Regions from separate parts of the Homo sapiens genome. Here region 1 is linked to region 2. Evidence: fine-mapped expression QTL. A gene starts in region 2. The other region holds a variant in brackets. All regions are shown on one strand. Distances are between the middles of the regions. Region 1 has its middle 26 kb from the start of MILR1. Region 2 holds the start of MILR1 (mast cell immunoglobulin like receptor 1).

The links. PIP is the estimated chance that this variant, and not a neighbour inherited with it, causes the effect.
Region 1: its variant is fine-mapped to the expression of MILR1 in esophagus muscle (GTEx, PIP 0.99).

Annotation. Positions count from the first base shown.
Region 1 is chr17:64,420,339-64,425,713 of GRCh38, forward strand. No RefSeq gene overlaps it. Among named protein-coding and RNA genes, the nearest start is that of MILR1, 26 kb to the right of the region's middle. The variant C/T (reference allele first, on the strand shown) is at 2,704.
Region 2 is chr17:64,446,961-64,452,335 of GRCh38, forward strand. MILR1 (mast cell immunoglobulin like receptor 1) reads left to right here and starts at 2,155. Exons shown (of 10, transcript NM_001085423.2): 1 at 2,155-2,263; 2 at 2,354-2,395. The coding sequence starts at 2,209. RefSeq lists a silencer at 2,018-2,067.

The DNA of each region.
Region 1 (5,375 bases), 27 kb before region 2:
TCGTCTGACCTGCTAACCTTCCACTAGATGGCGTCATTGTCAAGTGTCTGTAATTTCAAAAGCTCTAGGGAGGAAACTGACTGCCCATTAACTGTTTATGCCTTAACACTTTATTTTTATTTTCGCTTGTTTTTCTTTTGAGTCACTTGAAATTAAATTTAAAAAGTTGAGGCCAGGCGCAGTGGCTCACTCCTGTAATCCCAGCACTTTGGGAGGCTAGTGTGGAAGGATCACGTGAGCCCAGGAATTCAAGACCAGCCTGAGCAATACAGTGACACCTTGACTCTACAATAAATACAAAAAATTAGCCAGGTGTGGTGGTGCGCACCTGTAGGCTCATCTACTCAGGAGGCTGAGGTGGGAGGATCACCTCAGCCTGGGAGATGGAGGTTACAGTGAGCCAAGATCACACCACTGCACTCCAGCCTGGGCTACAGAGCAAGACCCTGTCTCAAACAAACAAGCAAACAAGCAAAACAAACAAACAAGAAACAAGTTCACTCAGGTCAGCTGATGTAGTCTTCCCAGAATCCTCAGCACCCCCTTCCCTGAAGGGGGTCTGGAGGTCCACTGGCATCACTTTGGGACCTAGGGAGTGCAGCATTCTCCCAGGCGGCAGCCCAGGCCATTCCGGATACAAGACAGCAAGACAGAGTCACCAGAGCCCTTACTTGTCCCCTGTCCCTACAAGGAAACCCAAAGCCTTCCTTCCTTCCTTGTGCTCAGCCTGTGGTAAACACCCAGATTTTCTGGAATCGTCTTCTCTCCACTAACAAAATCTTGACAAATCATCTCTTAGGATAGGTCACTTCTGCTGGCAGCTAAGGGCCTACCCAGATCCTTATTGGCTTTGGTTTAAAAGGGTAATTTCAGCTGGGCATGGTGGTGTACCCCTGTAATCCCAGCATTTTGGGAGGCTGATGTGGGAGGATCGCTTGAGCTCAGGAGTTCAAGACCAGCCTGGGAAATATAGCAAGACCTCATCTCTACTAAAATTAAAAAAAAAAAAAAAAATCAGCCGGGCATGGTGGCAAGCACCCGTAATCCCAGCTACTCGGGGAGGTGAGGCGGGAGCTTGATCCTTTAACCCTGTGACCATGTCAGGGTACTTTCTCTTGGCTTCTGCCATCTGAAGGGTGGGAATTTTGGAGGTTCATATCATATTTAGCTCTAAAAATTAACTTGAGCAGCTAAAAGCCTTTGCAAGCTCGAAATTGACTGCTTTAGGCTCCTTCTGGGAAGAGTACTAGAAATTGCCCGGCACCCTAGCTAAGTGGCTAAGGCCTTATCTTTTTTTTCACAGTGGTGGCCTCGGTTCAATTCCCGGCTTAGGGAATAAGTGCTTTCTGGTTTGCTGTCTGTGTGACTTTTGCCAGTTATTAATTATCTTCCCTACCATGAACAACTTCTGACTTCCCATCTTGAATTTTCCTTTCTCTGAGCTACATTTGGCGATTCTAGATCTTGTAACAACTGCTTACCACCTCTTTGAAAATACCACACACACCAGGCACAGTGGCTCATGCCTGTAATCCCAGCACTTTAAAAGGAGGCCGAGGCAGGTGGATCCCTAAGGTCAGAAGTTTGAGACCAGCCTGGCCAACATGACGAAAACCCTGTCTCTACTAAAAATACAAAAATTAGCTGGGCATGGTGGCACGTGCCTGTAATCCCAGCTACTGGGGGGCTGACGTAAGAGGATAGCTTGAGCCTGGGAGACAGAGGTTGCAGTGAGCTGAGATCGTGCGTGCCACTGCACTCTTTGAAAATACCACACATGCCGGACACAGTGGCTCACACCTGTAATCCCAGCACTTTAAAAAGAGGCCGAGGCGGGTGGATCCCCTGAGGTCAGAAGTTTGAGACCAGCCTGGCCAACATGAAGAAACCCCATCTCTACTAAAAATACAAAAATTCGCTGGGCGTGGTTGCGCATGCCTGTAATCCCAGCTACTAGGGGGGCTGACGTAAGAGGATAGCTTGAGCCTAGGAGACAGAGGTTGCAGTGAGCTGAGATTGTGCGTGCCACTGCACTCTCGCCTGGGCAACAGACCAAGACTCCATCTCAAAAAAAAACAAAACAAACAAACAAAAAAAAAAAACAAAAAAATGCACATCCATGGTTAAGTCATAATCCTAGTTAAGTCTTATTCGTTTCACCTGGAAGGTTACCTTTGGTCAAGTCCAAAAGCCAGGAATATCAGCTATTTGTCCTGGCTAGAGTGGTAATAAGAGATTTGGTTAAAAGTCAGGCTCTGCTCTGTTTTGCATTGTGTTACCTGATGTTTTTTACATTTAGGGTATGAGAGATTACATTATGAGAGAGCTTTTAGCCTTAATGTGTAATAACTAGGTAGGAAATATACTTCAAGGGATGGCTAATGGCAGTTATAGGGGAGTACTCAGTTCTTTGCATGTTTGGATCAGAGAAGCATGCTCTTGACCACCTAGAAGGTATGGAAACATACCCACCCACCCCCACTGAGAGATAAGACTCCTATAAGGGATAGCCTGATTCCCTTTATTTGGGGATCCAAGCCTGCTTATTAGTCCCTAGAAACTGCATACTTTCCTGGCCCTGTTCCTTAAAAGGCTCCACTCTAAAGCCAGTAATTAACTGAGGTCTTTTTTTTTTTTTTTTTTTTTTTTTTCTGAGACAGAGTCTTGTTCTGTCGCCCAGGCTGGAGTGCAATGGCATGATCT[C/T]GGCTCACTGCAAACTCCACCTCCCGGGTTCAAGCTATTCTCCTGCCTCAGCCTCCCGAGTAGCTGGGATTACAGGTGTGCACCACCATGTCTGGCTAATTTTTGTATTTTTACAAAATTAGGGATGGGGTTTTGCCATGTGGGCCAGGCTGGTCTCGAACTCCTGACCTCAGGTGATCTGCCCACCTCAGCCTCCCAAAGTGCTGGGATTACAGGCGTGAGCCACTGCACCTGGCCTTAACTTACGTCTTTAAAGAACTCTCCATGTGTAAGATTTTCCTGGCCGTCTTGAAACTGCCTTTGCAAAACTATGACTGAGACCGTGAAAAAGATCTAACTTAATTGACTCCATTTGCTTCTAACCTCCAATCTGTCCGTGTCCTTTCCTAGGCAGGCTGAACTAACTTTGGGAGAAACTTGGTTTATAGTTTAAAACAAAGATAAGTCGGGTGCAGTGGTGGCTGGGTGAGGTAGCTTACGCCTGTAATCCCAGCACTTTGGGAGGCTGAGGCTGGTGGATCACCTGAGGTTAGGAGTTCGAGACCAGCCTGACCAATATGGTGAAACCCTGTCTCTACTAAAAATACAAAAATTAGCTGGGTGTGGTGGCGGGCACCTGTAGTCCCAGCTACTCGGGAGGCTGACACAGGACAATTGCTTGAACCTGGGAGGTGGAGGTTGCAGTGAGCTGAGATCCCGCCACTGCACTCCAGCCTGGGCAACAGAGCGAAGACTCCATCTCAAAAACAACAAACAAACAAACAAACAAAGACAATAACAGCCCTTTCCCAAAGCAGACCTCCTTCTTGCCTGGGGACTAGATTGCCTTTTTAGGACTAACATTAGCCACAAGATTAGAAATTATGGTTTAAGAGTCATGCAGCTGGAGGCTGCAAGATTCTGACCCTCCCTAAACTGCTCCTAAGATCAGGGCTTGAGGTATTTTGCAGACCCTGCTCCTGATGGATCAGCTGGCACCACCCAGGTCAATAAACTGACTCATCTGATCTTGTGGCCACCACCCAGGAACTCAGTGCAAGAAGACAACTTCTACTCCCTGTGGATTTCATTCCTGACCAATCAGCACTCCTGGCTTCCTGGCTTCCCCCTACCCACCCTTAAAAACTGTGCTCCCTGAATGCTTGGGGAGACTGATTTGAGTAATAATAAAACTCTGGTCTCCCGCAGAGCCGGCCGTGTGTGAATTACCCTTTCTCTATTGCAATTCTCCTGTCTTAATAAATCGGTCTGTCTAGGCAGTGGGCAAGGTGAACCCACTGAGCCGTTACAGTCTTAACTGCAGTTATTCACACCCTTTTCCTTGGTTTGAGTAAAATATAGATTTGTTATTGGAAAGGGGTCTCAATCTAGACCTCAAGAAAGGGTTCTTGGATCTCACACAAGGGGTAATCCAGGGTGAGTCCACAGAGTAAAGAGAAAGCAAGTTTTTATTAGAAAAGTAAAGAAACAAAACAATGGCTACTCCATAGGCAGTGCAGCCCCAAGGGCTGCTGGTTGGCTATTTTTGGAAATTTCTTAATTATATGCTAAACAAGGGATGGATTACTCATGAGCTTTCTGGGAAAGGGGCAAGGAATTCCTGGAACTGAGGATTTCTCTTCCTTATAGACCCTATAGGTTAACTTCCAGACATTGCCATGGCATTTGTAAACTCTCATGGCACTGGTGGGAGTGTCTTTTAGCATGCTAATGCATTATAATGAGCATATAATGAGCAGTGAGGACAGCCAGAGGTAGCTTTCCTCACCATCTTGGTTTTGGTGGGTTTTGGCAGCTTCTTACTACATCCTTTTTTATCAGCTGGGTCTTTGTGACCTGTATCTTGTGCTGATCTTCTGTCCTGTGACTAAGAATGTCTCTCTGGGAGTGCAGCCCAGCAGGTCTCAGCCTCATTTTACCCAGTCCCTATTCAAGAGGGAGTTGCTCTGGTTCGAATGCCTCTGAAACATTTGCTAAATGCTTTAATATCATAAACTGCTTTAACTTTTTCTTTTTTTTTTTTTTTTTGAGACTGGAGTCTCGCTGTGTCACCCAGGCTGGAGTACAGTGGCTCGATCTCGGCTCACTGCAGCCTCCACTTCCTGGGTTCAAGCAATTCTCCTGCCTCAGCCTCCTGAGTAGCTGGAACTACAGGTATGTGCCACTACGCCTGGCTAATTTTTGTATTTTTTTAGTAGACTCAGGGTTTCACCATGTTGGCCAGGACGTTTCTTTAATTTGATAATTGTTCATCTTAACTGCTTTGGAGCCATTAGATTCTAAGTAAGCCCCATTAGATTCTAGATAATGCCTAACCTCCTAGGAATGCAGCCCAGCAGGTCTCAGCCTCACTTTACCCAACTCCTACTCAAGATGGAGTCATTCTTGTTCCAGTGCCTCTGACACACTCCCCCTCCCTTTTACAGGGAGACTTTTCATCCTAAGTGTTGTAGAGCGATGAGGATCCATCATCTGTAATTTCTTTAGGAGAAATAAGGGTGATGACATTCCTGCCTAACTATTAGTTTCTCTAGTATTCAGGGTAGAGAGAAGCTTAATCAGAGAGCATTGGTATGGTCAAGGCCAATCATAACTCTGAGTTCTGACAAAAGGTGATATTTAGAAGATTAACAGGTGTTCAATTTAAGAAATTATCTAAAGTAAACTAAGTA
Region 2 (5,375 bases):
GGTGGCACGTACCTGTAATCCCAGTTACTTGGGAGGGTGAGGCAGGAGAATCCCTTGAACCCAGGAGGTGGAGGTTTCAGTGAGCCGAGATAGCGCCACTGCACTCCAGCCTGGGCAACAGAGCGAGACTCCATCTCAAAAAAAAAAAAAAAAAAAGAGAGAGAAAGAAAATGTGGGTGCGGGGAATGATTCTATGGTTGTCTGTTCTTTTCCAGCTGGCCAGCAGTGGTAGCCAAAAAGTGACAGGATGCTGATGAAAAACATTGCAGACGTGAAGAAAAGAAAAAGTTGATGGAATTTTGCACATGTATCTGACAGTTCACCCATCCAAACTTTTATAAAGTGCTGTAAAGTTGTTGTAGTAAGGGTGGGGCATGGTGGTTCATGCTTGTAATCCTAGCACTTTTGGAGGCCACACGCAGGAGAATCGCTTGAGCCCAGGAGTTCAAAACCAGCCTGGGCAATATAGTGAGACTTCATCTCTATAAAAAAGTTAAAAACCTAGTAGTGTATGGTGGTTTGTGCCTGTGGTCCCAGCTACTAGAGAGGCTGAGGTGGAAAGATAGTTTGATTCTGGTAAGTGGAGATTGCAGTGAGCCAAGATGGTGCCACTGTGCTCTAGCTTGGGAGACAGAGCAAGATTCAGTATCAAACCTCCTAGCTAGAGGATGCTAGCTAGGTGACGCTGAGTCAATAAGGAAGGATTTGGTTACATCTTGGGACCTAAGGTACAGAGATGAATGTCCCAGCTCAAGGCTGCCCCAGCCATTCAACTCCTTGCTTCCTCTCTTGGTGGACCTGTCAATTCTTGCAAGTGTCAACCAGCTGTCTTGCCCACCTAGCCCTATAGTCATACCTTTCTATCCTTTTGGTGATCTCCACTCCATCAAGAAGTGGCTCTGCACATTCTATTTCAACTGACTTTTTTTTTTTTTTTTTGAGACAGAGTTTTGCTCTATCACCCAGGCTGGAGTGCAGTGGTGCAATCTTGGCTCACTGCAACCTCCACCTCCCGGGTTCAAACGATTCTTCTGCCTCAGCCCCTCAAGTAGCTGGAATTATAGGCACGCATCACCACACCCAGTTAAGTTTTTTGTATTTTTACTAGTGATGGGATTTCGCTGTGTTGGCCAGGCTGGTGTCAAACTCCTGACCTCGGGTGATCCGCCTGCCTCAGCCTTCCGAAGTGCTAGGATTACAGGCATGAGCCACCGCACCCAGCCTGCACGTTCTATTTCAAAGGCTGATCTAAGGTAACTCCTACTTCAGATCTCCTGGCACTGGAGGGCTTGCCGTAATATCAAGTCCCCAAGGCTCCCTTGATTCAGAAATCACTGAGGCAGCAGCACCTTGTACAGATATTTCTCAGCCTTCACTGTGCGTAAGAATTGCTCAGGGCCCTTGTTTAAAAAAAAAAAAATCAGCGTCCTGGACTTGAAACCCAGTAAGTCTGGAGTGGGGTCTAGGAATCAACGTTTAACAAAAGCAGGCATTTTTGGCCAGGCACAGTAGCTCACACCTGTAATCCCAGCACTTTGGGAGGCTGAGGCGGGAGGATCACTTGAGCTCAGGAGTTTAACACCAGCCTGGGCAACTAGACCCCTGTCTTTACAAATAAAAATAATTAGCCAGTCCTGATGGTGCACACCTGTGGTCCCAGCTACTCAGGAGCCTGAGGTGGGACGAGCACTTGAGCCCAGGAGTTTGAGGCTGCAATGAGCTATGATCACAGCACTCCACTCCAACCTGGGTGACAGAGTGAGGCCAGTCTCAAAAAAAAAAAGCAGGCATTTTTGATACAATATTTGTATGTATCTGCTTAAGACAGTCGGTTTGCTTCCAAAGACTAAATCAAACTTCCACCAAACTCCTTTTGGCATAGACTGAGTCCAGAGCAAGGAGATCAGATGGGTTTACATAGACAATGTAACAGTCAGATTTACCTCTTCTCTTTCCCAGCCAGCATGGGACGATGTGGGGGTGTGGGGGGGTGGGGGGGGCGGGGGAGTGGCAATCTACCAAATATCTCTCTTCTTACAGGAACTCACAGAGGAAGACAGATTGGTCGAACAAACCAGTATTATGCAAACCTCATCCAAACCCTCTGATTTCCTTAACTTGGCTAAGAAAAAGAGGAAGTTCTCCGAGTTACTCACCACTGTGGTTCTACTATGCCTTCTGACCCCGTCTTGGACTTCAACTGGGAGAATGTGGAGCCATTTGAACAGGCTCCTCTTCTGGAGCATATTTTCTTCTGTCACTTGTAAGCCCCCCTTATCATTCTGAGGCTCGAACCTCCAAGCCAACGTGTCATGTGGAAAGTGAGCTTTATCGTGTTCCTTTTCTGTTTCAGGTAGAAAAGCTGTATTGGATTGTGAGGCAATGAAAACAAATGGTAAGTTTCATTTACTTCTTTCTTATTGAAACCATTTTCACTGAAGTGGTGAGACAGTCTGATTGCAACATAAGCGTCCATTCAAAAGTGTTTCTGAGCTTTTATGAACAACCAAAGAACAGTCTTTTCAATTATCTATCATTTAAAATAAAATGATTTTAGGGAGGGGATTGCAGCATTTTTTTCTGAGACTCAGTGAGAAAAATAATGAAATTTGTTTTCACAATGAAAGTTTTCTAACTTTCCTTGTTATTGTTGTTTTATGGTTGTTGTGTTTTAACTAGAAAGCCAACACACAGGCTGGGTGTGGTGCCTCCGGCCTGTAATCGCAGCACTTTGGAAGGCTAATGGGGTAGGATTGCTTGAGCTCAGGAGTTTGAGACCAGCCTGAACAACATAGTGATACCTCGTTTCTTAAAAAAATAAAACAAAATAAAAAAACCCACAGAATTATTGTGAAATAATTCAAGCAACACTAGAAATATACATTGGGAAGTGGTCTAACCTCTGGTTCTACTAGTTACTAGCCAGCAGCCTGAGCTCATGACATACCCAGTTTGACCTTAATTTCTTTCTTTCTTTCTTTCTTTCTTTTTTTTTTTGAGATGGAGTCTCAGTCTGTCGCCCAGGCTGGAGTCAGTGGTGCAATCTCGGCTCACTGCAACCTCTGCCTCCCAGGTTCAAGTGATTCTCCTGCCTCAGCCTCCCGAGTAGCTGGGACTACAGGCGTGTGCCACCAAGCCTGGCTAATGTTTTGTATTTTTTGTAGAGACGGGGTTTCACATCGTTAGCCAGGATGGTCTCGATCTCCTGACCTCGTGATCCGCCCACCTTGGCCTCCCAAAGTGCTGGGATTACAGGCGTGAGACACTGTAATTTATTTCATCTGTGAAGTGGGCTAATAAAAGCACCTACCTGGTAGGCTAGTGTGCAGATCAAATGAGACAATCCCTGCTCCTCGTCACAGTGCCAGGCATATGGTAAACCATCCGTAAGTGATAGCCAAGGTGGTGGTTGTTACTGTATAAAATGTAAAAGTTCTGTTACAATCCTCCTCCAATTCTTCTCCCCTTCCTATCCAGAAGCAGCCGTTATCAACAGTCACTTTATATTCGTTATCTTTTTTTGTTTGTTTGTTTTTGAGACAGAGTTTCACTCTTGTTGCCCAGGCTGGAGTACAGTGGCACAATCTCGGCTCACTGCAACCTCCGCCTCCTGGGTTCAAGGGATCCTCCTGCCTCAGCCTCCCGAGTAGCTGGGATTACAGGCACGTGCCACCATGCCTGGGTAATTTTTGTATTGTTTTTTGGTAGAGACGGGGTGTCATCATGTTGGCCAGGCTGTTCTTGAACTCTTGACCTCGTGATCCTCCTGCCTCTGCCTCCCAAAGTGCTGGGGTTACAGGCATGAGCTACCACACCAGCCTTAGCTCCTCTTTTTCAACAGCTGCATGGTATTTTAAGACTCAGCCATGATTCGTTTAACCATCCTTATTTATTGCCCTGCTTTTTGGGGGCAATATAAACAATGCTACAATAAACATCCTTGTACACAACGTCCTTTGTGGATGCATGAGAGCTTGAAAGCATCTCTGTAGAATGAAATTCTAGAATTGAAATTGCAAGGTCATAGGGCATACACATTTAAATTGTTACAGACCCTGCTAAGTTGCCCTCCCAACAAGGCTGATCGTATCCTATCAGTCACCAACGGTGGGTGAGTTTCCCCACCCACTCCCCAGTGGTGGATATAATCACTTTTACTTTTAAATTTTATTTAGGGTTTTTTTTTTTCTTTCTTTCTTTGAGACAGAGTCTCTGCTCTGTCGCCCAGGCTGGAGTGCAGTGGTGCGATCTTAGCTTTCCGCAGCCTCGACCTTCCAAGCTCAATTGATCCTCCCACCTCAGCCTCCTGAGTAGTGCCATACAGGTACGCACCATCATGCCCAGCTAATTTTTGTATTTTTAGTAGAGACAGGGTTTCACCATTTGCCCAGGCTGGTCTCGAACTCCTGGACTCAAGAGATCTGCCTGCCTCAGCCTCCCAAATTGCTGGGATTACAGGCATGAGCCACCATGCCTGGCCAATCATTTTTAAACTTTGTACCAATCTGATGAGTGAAAAATGATATCTCAGTGTTGTTTTAATTTGCAGTTGCCTCATTACTTGTGAAGTTGAGCATCTTTTTCATGTTTACTGGCCACAAAAGCTCTAGCATTCCTAGATAAAAAAAACTTAGGGATGGCTATTTGGTTGGAAAGGTAGTTTAGGTCTTGTCTTAAAGTTGAGTTTATATGGCGGGGCACAGTGACTCACACCTGTAATCCCGGCACTTTGGGAGGCTGAAGCAGGCAGTCACTTGAGGTCAGGAGTTCAAGACGAGCCTGGACAACATGGTGAAACCCTGTCTCTACCAAAACTACAAAAATTAGCTGGGCATGGTGGTGTGTGCCTATAGTTCAGCTACTCAGGAGGCTGAGGCAGGAGGATCAGTTGAGCCTGGAAGGTGGAGGCTGTGGTGAGTCAAGATGGTGCCACTGCGCTCCAGCCTGGGCAACAGAGTGAGACTCTGTCTCAAAAAAAAAAAAAAGTTGAGCTTATATAAGACTGAGAAAATGTTAATTGTCCAGATCAAAGAGTGGGAGGAGAGTTTACTGCATTTTTAAAAGCATTTTTGAAGAGTCTAAATCTGTCTTCCACCCAAGCCATCCATTGGTCCCAGCTATGTTTTTTTTTTTTTTTGTTCTGTTTTGTTTTTTAAAAATTAGAGACGAGGTCTCACTTGTTGCCCAGGCTGTTCTCGAACTCCTGACCTCAAGTGACCCTCCCACCACAGCCTCCCAAAGTGCTAGGATTATAGGCGTCAACCACCACACCCAACTTCAAGAACTTTTTATTTATTATTATTTTTATTTTTTGAGGTAGTCTCACTCTGTCACCCAGCCTGGAGTGCAGTGGCATGATCTTGGCTCACTGCAAC